3 linked regions of the Homo sapiens genome follow. The protein of the gene in region 1 interacts with the protein of each later gene in a pairwise test. Each region holds a gene or a part of one and is shown in the gene's direction. Other genes may lie near its edges.

Evidence for each region. Proteins that work in one complex are often made in the same cells at the same time.
Region 2: the proteins of P4HA2 (region 1) and TNS4 interact in a two-hybrid assay, tested with the Homo sapiens proteins (one large-scale study listed by BioGRID and IntAct).
Region 3: the proteins of P4HA2 (region 1) and CLNK interact in a two-hybrid assay, tested with the Homo sapiens proteins (one large-scale study listed by BioGRID and IntAct).

What each region holds. Positions count from the first base shown.
Region 1 is NC_000005.10:132,193,354-132,196,853, reverse strand, and holds part of P4HA2 (prolyl 4-hydroxylase subunit alpha-2 isoform 2 precursor), read left to right. Parts: intron 1-1,373; coding exon 1,374-1,442; intron 1,443-1,831; coding exon 1,832-1,928; intron 1,929-3,500. UniProt on the Homo sapiens protein: Catalyzes the post-translational formation of 4-hydroxyproline in -Xaa-Pro-Gly- sequences in collagens and other proteins.
Region 2 is NC_000017.11:40,477,624-40,481,123, reverse strand, and holds part of TNS4 (tensin-4 precursor), read left to right. Parts: intron 1-355; coding exon 356-424; intron 425-945; coding exon of another isoform or gene 946-1,281; coding exon 1,282-1,450; intron 1,451-2,475; coding exon 2,476-2,544; intron 2,545-2,790; coding exon 2,791-2,817; intron 2,818-3,394; coding exon 3,395-3,500. UniProt on the Homo sapiens protein: Promotes EGF-induced cell migration by displacing tensin TNS3 from the cytoplasmic tail of integrin ITGB1 which results in dissociation of TNS3 from focal adhesions, disassembly of actin stress fibers and initiation of cell migration.
Region 3 is NC_000004.12:10,678,269-10,681,768, reverse strand, and holds part of CLNK (cytokine-dependent hematopoietic cell linker), read left to right. Parts: intron 1-3,500. UniProt on the Homo sapiens protein: An adapter protein which plays a role in the regulation of immunoreceptor signaling, including PLC-gamma-mediated B-cell antigen receptor (BCR) signaling and FC-epsilon R1-mediated mast cell degranulation.

The sequences.
Region 1 (3,500 bases):
ACTCTCCCTCTGTTGCCCAGGCTGGAGTGCAGTGGCGCTATCTCAGCTTACTGCAAACTCTGCCTCCCAGGTTCAAGCGATTCTCCTGCCTCAGCCTCCCAAGTAGCTGGGATTATAGGCGTGCACCACCATGCCCAGCTAATTTTTGTATTTTTAGTAGAGATGAGGTTTCACCATCTTGGCCAGACTGGTCTCAAGCTCCTGACCTCAAGTGATCCACCCGCCTTGGCCTCCCAAAGTGCTGGCATTACAGGCGTGAGCCACCATGCCCAGCCTAAACATCAGAGAGATTATTATGTAGTTATGGAGACAGGTGCTGTGAACCCCAGGCTTGGGGTTCAGTGGAGGCCTCTCTTTGGAAGTAACATATCAGTTGAGACTTAAAAGTTGAGTGGAAATTAGCTGGTAGAACATGGTTTCTGGCAGAAGAGAGAGTGTATGTAGTCCTGTAAGAGAAAAGGAACTTGGGATGTTGGAAAGGTAGAAAAAGGCTGGTGTGTCTGGAGAGAGGCTAGTGAGACTGACAGGGCCTTGGGGTTCTAGAAAAGAATCTGAGTTTGATCCACAGGGCTGTGAGAAGCCATCAGAGCTTTTGTCTTATTCATTTACCATATGTCTGTCAAGTACCCTTCAGTGAGTCTGGTATGTGTCCTGTGGAAATATTTTTTACCTCCAATTTTTATTAAATTATGGACAAAAAAAGTAAGAGAGCCAGATGGGAAAGAAGTAGTGCTTTGGCCATGAGTCAAGGCATGCTCTGTGGGCATGAGTACAGCCTTGCTAGTGTGGAACTTGTGTTCAATGTAGTTTAAGGCCTTACCATAGGAGAAAGCAGGGCCTCTAGAGACACAGTGCCCCACCCTTCCACTCAGTTGGCCCCAGGAAGGGTGGCTACTCTGGGAAGGTGAAGGTCTGACTAGAGCAGCAAACTACTAGAGCCAGAGAAACAGAGCTGCAGTGGGGACTGCACATGGTGTTGGAAACAGTACAGAGCTCCTGGTCAGGGCACTTTGCAGAGTACAGTGGCTTAGGCAAGGCCAAGGCTAGATGGGGATTCAAAGGGTGGGGTCAGAACAGGCATTTTCTGAGTACAGACTCAGATTATTTTCATCCAGGGACAGCCCGGATGTGGGTCTCCTGTGGGCCTCAACTCTTGAACACTCATGACATGGAGACTGTTCTAATGAATCACACTGGTTAAGTAGGCATGGGAAGAGCCTTTCTTGGCTAAAGGGCTGGCCATGGAGCAGACACCAAGTAGTGTCACTCATGCTGAGAGGAGGGCAATCTATATACCTTGTCATGTCCTTTGTGGCTCAATTGCTCTGAGAGCCTTGGGTAGGAGGGTCAAGCTCTATGTCTTATATTTCCAGATGAGTGATGTAGAAGCTGGTGGTGCCACCGTCTTCCCTGATCTGGGGGCTGCAATTTGGCCTAAGAAGGTAAGTTCTGATTCTTGTGGGTCAGAGGTTGAAGCAAGGCTCAGACTTTACTTTGTCCATGTCCCCCAGTACCATTACCTGGCCTGCCTGATTGTCACTGTGATGTGCCTTAGCCCACCTGGGGTCTGACCTGGTAGCCCAGCTTCTCCCTGTGAAGAAAGGACAGGGAGGGAAGTCCCTTCAGGGGCGGGTGAGTTCCCAGACTTCTACCTCAGAAAGGTAGGTGCTTTCTGGGAAATGTCTCTGTTGCTGGAGTCCCAGAGCCCTATCCCCTGTCCATGGGAAAATGAGGGTGTTTCTGCTCAGGGCAGAGCTTCTGTGATGCTTGCAGTCAGGTCCCTGAGCACAGTCTCTTAAGAATGTGTTCTGAAAGGCCATCTCTTTCCCAGGGTACAGCTGTGTTCTGGTACAACCTCTTGCGGAGCGGGGAAGGTGACTACCGAACAAGACATGCTGCCTGCCCTGTGCTTGTGGGCTGCAAGTGGGGTGAGTGTCTTAAGGGGTAGTGTTGGTGTTGGTGGCCTCAGCTTGGGCTTTGCTTATTGGCCTTAGATTCTGAGCTGGGAGGCAACTGCTGCCAAATTTGCTGAGACTGTCTCCCTTCTTAGGTTTTTTTCTGCTGTTATTACCATCCAGCCATGTAATGTCCATGCAGCTGGTAAATGCCAAGGCAGCTGGTTGGAAACACTCAGAGATACACAGGAAGCTGAAGAAGGCCTGAGGACGAATAGCTGCATAAGCACCATAGGTCCAGGACCCTCTGGCAAGGCTTCTGAGGGAGCAGAGTGGAGAGCTGGAAGCAGTGAGGGGAAAGAGTGTCTCAGGCAAACAAGGCCCATATGGATGGAGGCACAGGCTAAAACCAGCATACGGGTGTGGGGGCTGGCTCCCTTGTCACTTGAAGAAAGGGAGGCCTGTGGCACAGGGGCCAGAAGATGAGGCTGGAGGCTGGGACCAAACTGCAGAGGCTCAAGCTTGAGCCTTATCCTGGGAGCAGTTGTGGTGAGCCTCGGAGAGGCTCAAACCAGGATATGACAGGAAGTGTTTGTAAGGAGATGAGTGTGTAGCCCCCTTGGAGAGTTTTGAAGATAAATAGTGATAGGTTTGCAGATAATTAAGCAAATGGAAAAGAAAACAAGGCAGTTGCTGAATTCAGGGGAAAAAAAGTTGTACAAGAAAGGAAATGTAAGTATAATCTACTAGATGGCTCAGGTGTAACACATGATATAATTATGTACACACTGAGTATTACTTTAACTAAAACTTATGATTTACCTGTACTGGAAAGGTGGGAGGGGATGAGTTTGTGTTTTAGGGGTAGAATAAAAGAATTCCAAAGTTGAAAGTCAAGGAATAGAACTATAAGCATCTTATCTAGAAAAATGAGGTTAAATATCAGAAGAAACAGCTAGAGGAGTTTAATGTTCCCTGGGAGTGGAGATTAGGGATGGGAAGGAGAGGCTTAGGAGGAGTGCTATTTATCATTATAAGCCTTGCGACAATTTTATTTTTTTCAATGAAGTACATGTTATTACTTTATATTTTAAAAGCTCTGTGACTTCAGTAGTGCATTGAAATAAAATTTTTATTCATTATGAGAGAGTCTGTGAGGAACAGAATCATGGTTCCTGTGTGTTTGAAGATATGGCGTGGGGTGATAGTGCTGGCAGCAGCTCTGTTGCTCTTGTGCCCATGGCATACAGACTGGATCTGCTGGTCCACGGCTCCTGAGGTTAATGTCCAAGCCCTCTGCAATGCTGACAGTCTTCCTCATCCTCACACCCTACCTCTCAGTTTCTACCTGCCACCTCCCAGTAATATTAGGCCTCTTGAGTCCCCAACACACGTCAGGGTGGCTTCTGCCTTGATTACTTTCTCATCCTGTTGTCACTCCTGGGACCCTCTTGGTGAGAGAACCATCTGGGTATGCCCATCTTCTTCCCAGGATAACTTCTATGTAGCTTTATATTCTAGCCCTAGGATTTCCTCTTCCCTCTAAGAGCAAGAAACATGTGTGCAGGTTGCCATGGGAATAGAGCCAAAGGGCATCAAAGGTCA
Region 2 (3,500 bases), on another chromosome or scaffold:
GAGCGATGGTGAGAGCCTCCTCGCTTTCTGCAAAGACAGGTCAGGGGTTGAGACAGGGTCCAAAAGAAGTGAGGAGGTCAGGGGCCTGTGAGGACAAGATCATGGCAGCCATCTAAGAGGTGGGGGGGCGAGGAGGGGATGAAGAGATCAAAAGGGTTGCAAACTAAGCATTTAGGGAGCCCAAAGTGGCCTGTTTGCCTAATTACGGTAATCACACCTGGTTTGAGTCACTTCCTGGAGATGGGGGTGGAGGTGGGAGATCTTCAAAGGGATTCATGAGGCCTGTTCCTGTGAGAGGGGTCCATTCACTCCACCCCCGCCCCTTTGGGGGGCCTGTTTCTTTGCCTTGGCTCAGAACTGGGAGGTGCAGATGGGGCCTCGGACTCTACAGACAGCCCAGCCTCCTGCCAGAAGAAATCTGCGGGTGAGTGGTACAGGAAGGGAGGCGCCAAGCTTGGCTGTGCCCCAAGAGGGCACCTCCCAACCCTGCACACACGCACGCATGCACGCACACACGCACAGGCACACACGTGTTTCCCATCTCAGCTTTGTTTCTGCATCTTTAACAAGGTGCCACACCCGCTCCCCATCACCCCTGTAAAACAGAAGATGAGAGGCCAGCAGGGAAGTGGGGCAGGGTGGGGGGTGGGGGGAGTGGCAGAACTTACAGTCCCTCCTGCACACACATGGGCATGTGCACACGTGCTAGGGTCTCTCTAGGTCTGAGAAACCTGCCCTAGAGGTGGTTCTGGGTCTGGGATCCTCTATGGGGTGTCAGGTCTAAGTCCTGGAGCCTTCACCAGGGGAAAGGTCCCTGACCCACACTCCCAGAGGCCAGCACACATCAGCACTTGTCTCAGTGACTGTTCCTGCTCTATGCCCTGAGCACGAACAATTTCCTTCCCCATTCTTGTCTTCTGTCCCTACCGTTGCCAATGAACCAAGACCTTGAAGATGGAGGTGTGGGGAGGAGAGCAGCCGTTAAGTGTGGACAGAAGGATGTTTTCCTGGGCACCTCTACACACAGGGCAACATCCCCTCCCCTGCCCCATGCTGGAGGGCCAGGGGCCAGGGCGATGCAAAGCCACAGAAGATCCCAAAGCCCTCTGGGGTTGGCCTCAAACTGTGATCACCCACACACCCACTTTCTGTTGGGTGGCGGCTCTAAGAGGAGCTCCACTGGATTCCTGAACAGGAGACTCACCCCCTCCCCTGGCCCTGGGCAGAGGGAGAACCTGGGCCCTGGGTCAGTGGCCCCAGCGCAGTGTCTGCCTCCCACAGGCTGCCACACCCTGTACCTGAGCTCAGTGAGCGTGGAGACCCTGACTGGAGCCCTGGCCGTGCAGAAAGCCATCTCCACCACCTTTGAGAGGGACATCCTCCCCACGCCCACCGTGGTCCACTTCAAAGTCACAGAGCAGGGCATCACTCTGACTGATGTCCAGAGGAAGTAAGGGCCTTCCCTTGCCCTGGGGCTCCGGGGCTGGCGGAGTAGAGCTGGAGGGGATAGCTGAGACAGCTGCAGATCAGGGATGAAGGTCAAGTTCAGGGTTCTGGATGACCCAGCGGGGCCAGTGATGTGCTGAGTGACTCCAGGCAGCTTCCCTGCCTCCTCCAGGCCTCACTCCACTGCCAAAGCCCCTGTTCATCATGACTGATGAAAATGGAGTTAACGGGGGCCGGGCACGGTGGCTCATGCCTGTAATCCCAGCACTTTGGGAGGCCGAGGCGGGCGGATCACCTGAGGTCAGGAGTTCGAGACCAGCCTGGTCAACATGATGAAACCCCGTCTCTACTAAAAATACAAAATTAGCCGGGCATGGTGGCACGCACCTGTAATCCCAGCTACTTGGGAGGCTGAGGCAGGAGAATTGCTTGAACCCAGGAGGCGGAGGTTGTAGTGAGCTGAGAGCACGCCATTGCACTCCAACCTGGGTGACAGAGTGAAACTCCATCTCAAAAAAGGAAGGAAGGAAGGAAGGAAATGGAGTTAACTAGTATTCATGGGTGCCGATTATGCCTGCACCCATTGATGGAACATCTTCCCTCGGCCAGACTGGCTGACCACTGGGACCCAGAGAGGAATGAGATCGTTCCTTCCCCAGGCTCGGATCTCACAGTCTAACAGGAGCCTGATCCAGGGCTGAGCACTTCACAGGGAGAAACAAGAGATGACCAAGATGTAATTCGTGTCCTCAAAAAGTTAGTGGCCAAAAAAAATTAAATGGCGTGGTAGGGGTGTGATAGAAAACCCCAGAGTGTAAGACAGAGGCAGACAAGCCCCATGAGAGGAGAGAGGCAGGAGCGGGGCGCCAGGGCCCCCCAGTGGGAAAGGCCATAGCGGTCTTCAAGGTCTAACCCAGAGACTTCTTGGAGGACAGGGCACCTGAGCTTGGGGGGAACGAGAGATGCTGGAGGCAGGATGACACTGGGACAGGCTGTCATCGCTTCCCTTCTCTCCCCGCCTCCTCCTAGGGTGTTTTTCCGGCGCCATTACCCACTCACCACCCTCCGCTTCTGTGGTATGGACCCTGAGCAACGGAAGTAAGTTCAAGGCTGGGCCAAACTAAGAAGGCTGTCCAGGGCCCCGCTGCCCACCAAGGCGTCCTGCCGACTCTGGGCCTGGGATCCCAGAGGGAGCCTGTGAACCTCAAGGGGTCAGGGTGACAGAATGAGGGTAGGGTGGGGCATGGTGGGGTGGGGACGCAGCTGGCCAGTCCTGCTGCTCCTCCAGGGTCCTGTGGCATGGAGCGAAGCCTCATTACTCGGTATCATGTTCTTTTCCTACAGGTGGCAGAAGTACTGCAAACCCTCCTGGTAAGGCCTTCCTGTCTCAGGGCCCCAAACCCAACATGGGGAGGGAACTGCAGAAGGAAAGAGGCACCATTCTGACTTTAATAGTCCAAAGTGTTGATGAGGGCACAGGCCCTGGTCCTCAGGGAGCTCCCATCTGATGGGAAAGACTTTGACTGCCCTCAGAGCCTCTGGGCTGTTGGGGGTGACATGAGCCTGGGAGCCCTCAATCTTCTGCAAGAGGCACAGGCTCTAACTTCAGGGAGCCTCAAGCTATTGGAATGTCCCAGTCTGATGATCAAGATGCATCCTTGCCCTCAGGGAGCTTCCACTCTAATGGGGAATGCACAGGTCCTGTCCTCAAGGAGCCCTCACTCAAAACAAAGGAAACCCAGAGCTTGAACTCAGAAATCTCCCAGTCTGACGGGAGAGGCATCTCCTTCCCCAGGGAGCCCCACCATAAGGAGGTGCTGGAGTCAATTGGCTAAGGGAGGGGCAGGGAGGAATGAGATGCAGGCTGAGGGCCCCCCACCACCCCATTCCCACCAGCCTGATGCCTCCCTGGGTCCCACCCCTCACTCAGACTGCCCTCCCCCACCAGGATCTTTGGGTTTGTGGCCAAGAGCCAGACAGAGCCTCAGGAGAACGTATGCCACCTCTTTGCGGAGTATGACATGGTCCAGCCAGCCTCGCAGGTCATCGGCCTG
Region 3 (3,500 bases), on another chromosome or scaffold:
GTGCTCCATGAGTACCCTGCTGATGTTCCCAGGTTCATGATCAGGGCATCAATCACTGTCTTCCAAACTAGTCAACAGCATTTAAGGAACTCCCAGATACACCACAAGCATTAGCAAAATATGTATTTTAGTTGTTTCTTTTAAATTTCATTGGTGATACTAATTGAAACACTGCTTCCTAAACACTTATGCATGAGAATCAAAATCCTATTGTGTTTAAATGGTACTGTGGTTTGTCATTTGAACTAAGATGAGCCAAAAGGTCTAGATACAACATGAAAATTTAATATCCATGTGATTGGATGATAATCTTTAACAGTGGTAGGTTCTGTGTTCAATTTCGTGTAAGATAAAGATAAGGGCTGACTAATAGCCTAGGCCCAAACTCTGAGAGGGCTGAATTTTTGTGGACTGCCTAAGGACCACATTTCACCATCAGTTTTGAAGACCCAGAAAGCTAATTGTATCCAAGGCACACAGAGTTGATGGAGCTCAAGAGGTCAGTTCACTCTGGTACTTTGACCTATGTATCCATCTTTGGTGATTTTGTTCAAGTGTACTCAAATTATAAGTTCAGATGATTGGCATATTCCCTCCCAGGAGACAAATGTACACAGGAAACTAAATTGATATTGGGCAGTAGCTTGTTGAGCACTAAGTCAGAGCTGTGTAATTTCAAAAGCTGGATTTGCTGAGCTATGGGTGGTCTGATGCCTTGGCAGGCACCTGGAAAGCCAGTCTGCCCCATGGTTACCTGTAGAAATTTATATATATATATATATCAGGACGTCCTCACTCATGGGCAAGTCTAGGGATCTCCCGATCAGCTTTATCTGTCTGGACTCTTTACACAGGACACCTCCACACAGTCCCCATCCCAAACTCCTACTTCTGATACATGCTGTTTTCACTATACCACGCCATCCAGTCGTTGAGACATGGATAGTGTGGGTTTGAAATCAGTTACTTCCTAGCAATATGGTTTTAGACAAGTTATTTAACTCCTCAGAACCTCTGTTTATCCTTTATAAAATGGAATAAAAATATCTACTGCTCGAATTTGTGGTGAGAAATGAGATTCAGTACATAAAAATGCATATCATGGTGACTAGTAATTATTAAATACAAAGTAAATGGTAGTGGCTATTATCATCATTCTTAGCATTATTATTATGAGTTTATTTTATATTTAAACAAACCTTCCTTAGATTCTTGGCCTTTGTCCCTTTTTTGTCTTCTTTTTTAATTATTATTATACTTTAAGTTTTAGGGTACATGTGCACAACGTGCAGGTTTGTTACATATGTATACATGTGACATGTTGGTGTGCTGCACCCATTAACTCATCATTTAGCATTAGGTATACCTCCTAATGCTATCCCTCCCCCCTCCCCCCAACCCACCACAGGCCCCAGTGTGTGATGTTCCCCTTCCTGCGTCCATGTGTTCTCATTCTTCAATTCCCACCTATGAGTGAGAACATGCGGTGTTTGGTTTATTGTCCTTGCGATAGCTTGCTGAGAATGATGGTTTCCAGCTTCATCCATGTCCCTACAAAGGACATGAACTCATCATTTTTTATGGCTGCATAGTATTCCATGATGTATATCTGCCACATTTTCTTCATCCAGTCTATCATTGTTGGACATTTAGGTTGGTTCCGAGTCTTTGTTATTGTGAATAGTGCCGCAATAAACATACGTGTGCATGTGTCTTTATAGCAGCATGATTTATAATCCTTTGGGTATATATCCAGTAATGAGATGGCTGGGTCAAATGGTATTTCTAGTTCTAGATCCCTGAGGAATCACCACACTGACTTCCACAATAGTTGAACTAGTTTACAGTCCCACCAACAGTGTAAAAGTGTTCCTATTTCTCCACATCCTCTCCAGCACCTGTTGTTTCCTGACTTTTTAATGATCGCCATTCTAACTGGTGTGAGATGGTATCTCATTGTGGTTTTGATTTGCATTTCTCTGATGGCCAGTGATGATGAGCATATTTTCATGTGTTTTTTGGCTGCATAAATGTCTTCTTTTGAGAAGTGTCTGTTCATATCCTTTGCCCACTTTTTGATGGGGTTGTTTGTTTTTTTTCTTGTAAATTTGTTTGAGTTCATTGTAGATTCTGGATATTAGCCCTTTGTCAGATGAGTAGATTGCAAAAATTTTCTCCTATTCTGTAGGTTGCCTGTTCACTCTGATGGTAGTTTCTTTTGCAGTGCAGGAGCTCTTTAGTTTAATTAGATCCCATTTGTCAATTTTGGCTTTTGTTGCCATGCTTTTGATGTTTTAGACATGAAGTCCTTGCCCATGCCTATGTCCTGAATGGTATTGCCTAGGTTTTCTTCTAGGGTTTTTATGGTTTTAGGTCTAACATGTAAGTCTTTCATCCATCTTGAATTAATTTTTGTGTAAGGTGTAAGGAAGGGATCCAGTTTCAGCTTTCTACATATGGCTAGCCAGTTTTCCCAGCACCATTTATTAAATATGGAATCCTTTCCCCATTTCTTGTTTTTGTCAGGTTTGTCAAAGATCAGATAGTTGTAGATATGTGGCATTATTTCTGAGGGCTCTGTTCTGTTCCATTGGTCTATATCTCTGTTTTGGTACCAGTACCATGCTGTTTTGGTTGCTGCAGCCTTGTAGTATAGTTTGAAGTCAGGTAGTCTGATGCCTCCAGCTTTGTTCTTTAGGCTTAGGATTGAGTTGGCAATGCACGCTCTTGTTTGCTTCCATATGAACTTTAAAGTAGTTTTTTTTCCAATTCAGTGAAAAAAGTCATTGGTAGCTTGATGGGGATGGCATTGAATCTATAAATTACCTTGGGCAGTATGGCCATTTTCACGATATTGATTCCTCCTACCCATGAGCATGGAATGTTCTTCCATTTGTTTGTATACTCTTTTATTTCATTGAGCAGTGGTTTGTAGTTCTCCTTGAAGAGGTCCTTCACATCCCTTGTAAGTATTTTATTTTCTTTGAGGCAATTGTGAATGGGAGTTCACTCATGATTTGGCTCTCTGTTTGTCTGTTATTGGTGTATAAGAATGCTAGTGATTTTTGCACATTGATTTTGTATCCTGAGACTTTGCTGAAGTTGCCTATCAGCTTAAGGAGATTTTGGGCTGAGATGATGGGGTTTTCTAGATATTTGACCTGAAGAAGTTCTATTTTAAGGTGATTTCTACAGAAACTAATTTCATCATATTCTTATTTATTTTTTATTATTCATCTATCAAAGCCTTGGGTGTCTTACAATTCCTCAAATGTGCTAATCCTCTGAAAATATTAAGATTTAATGAAAAATAATAGAAATTATTTTGGAATACCTTCCTAGCCAAATTTCAAATCCTCAGAGTTTTTCACGGCACTGATGCAAAGAAATTACTCAGTAATTATCTGTGGAACTATTCTTGCATAGCGGTTTATACTTTACAGAGTGCTTTCACTTTCATCATCTTACTTGGTCTTCAAAATAATCCTATGAGCAAAGAA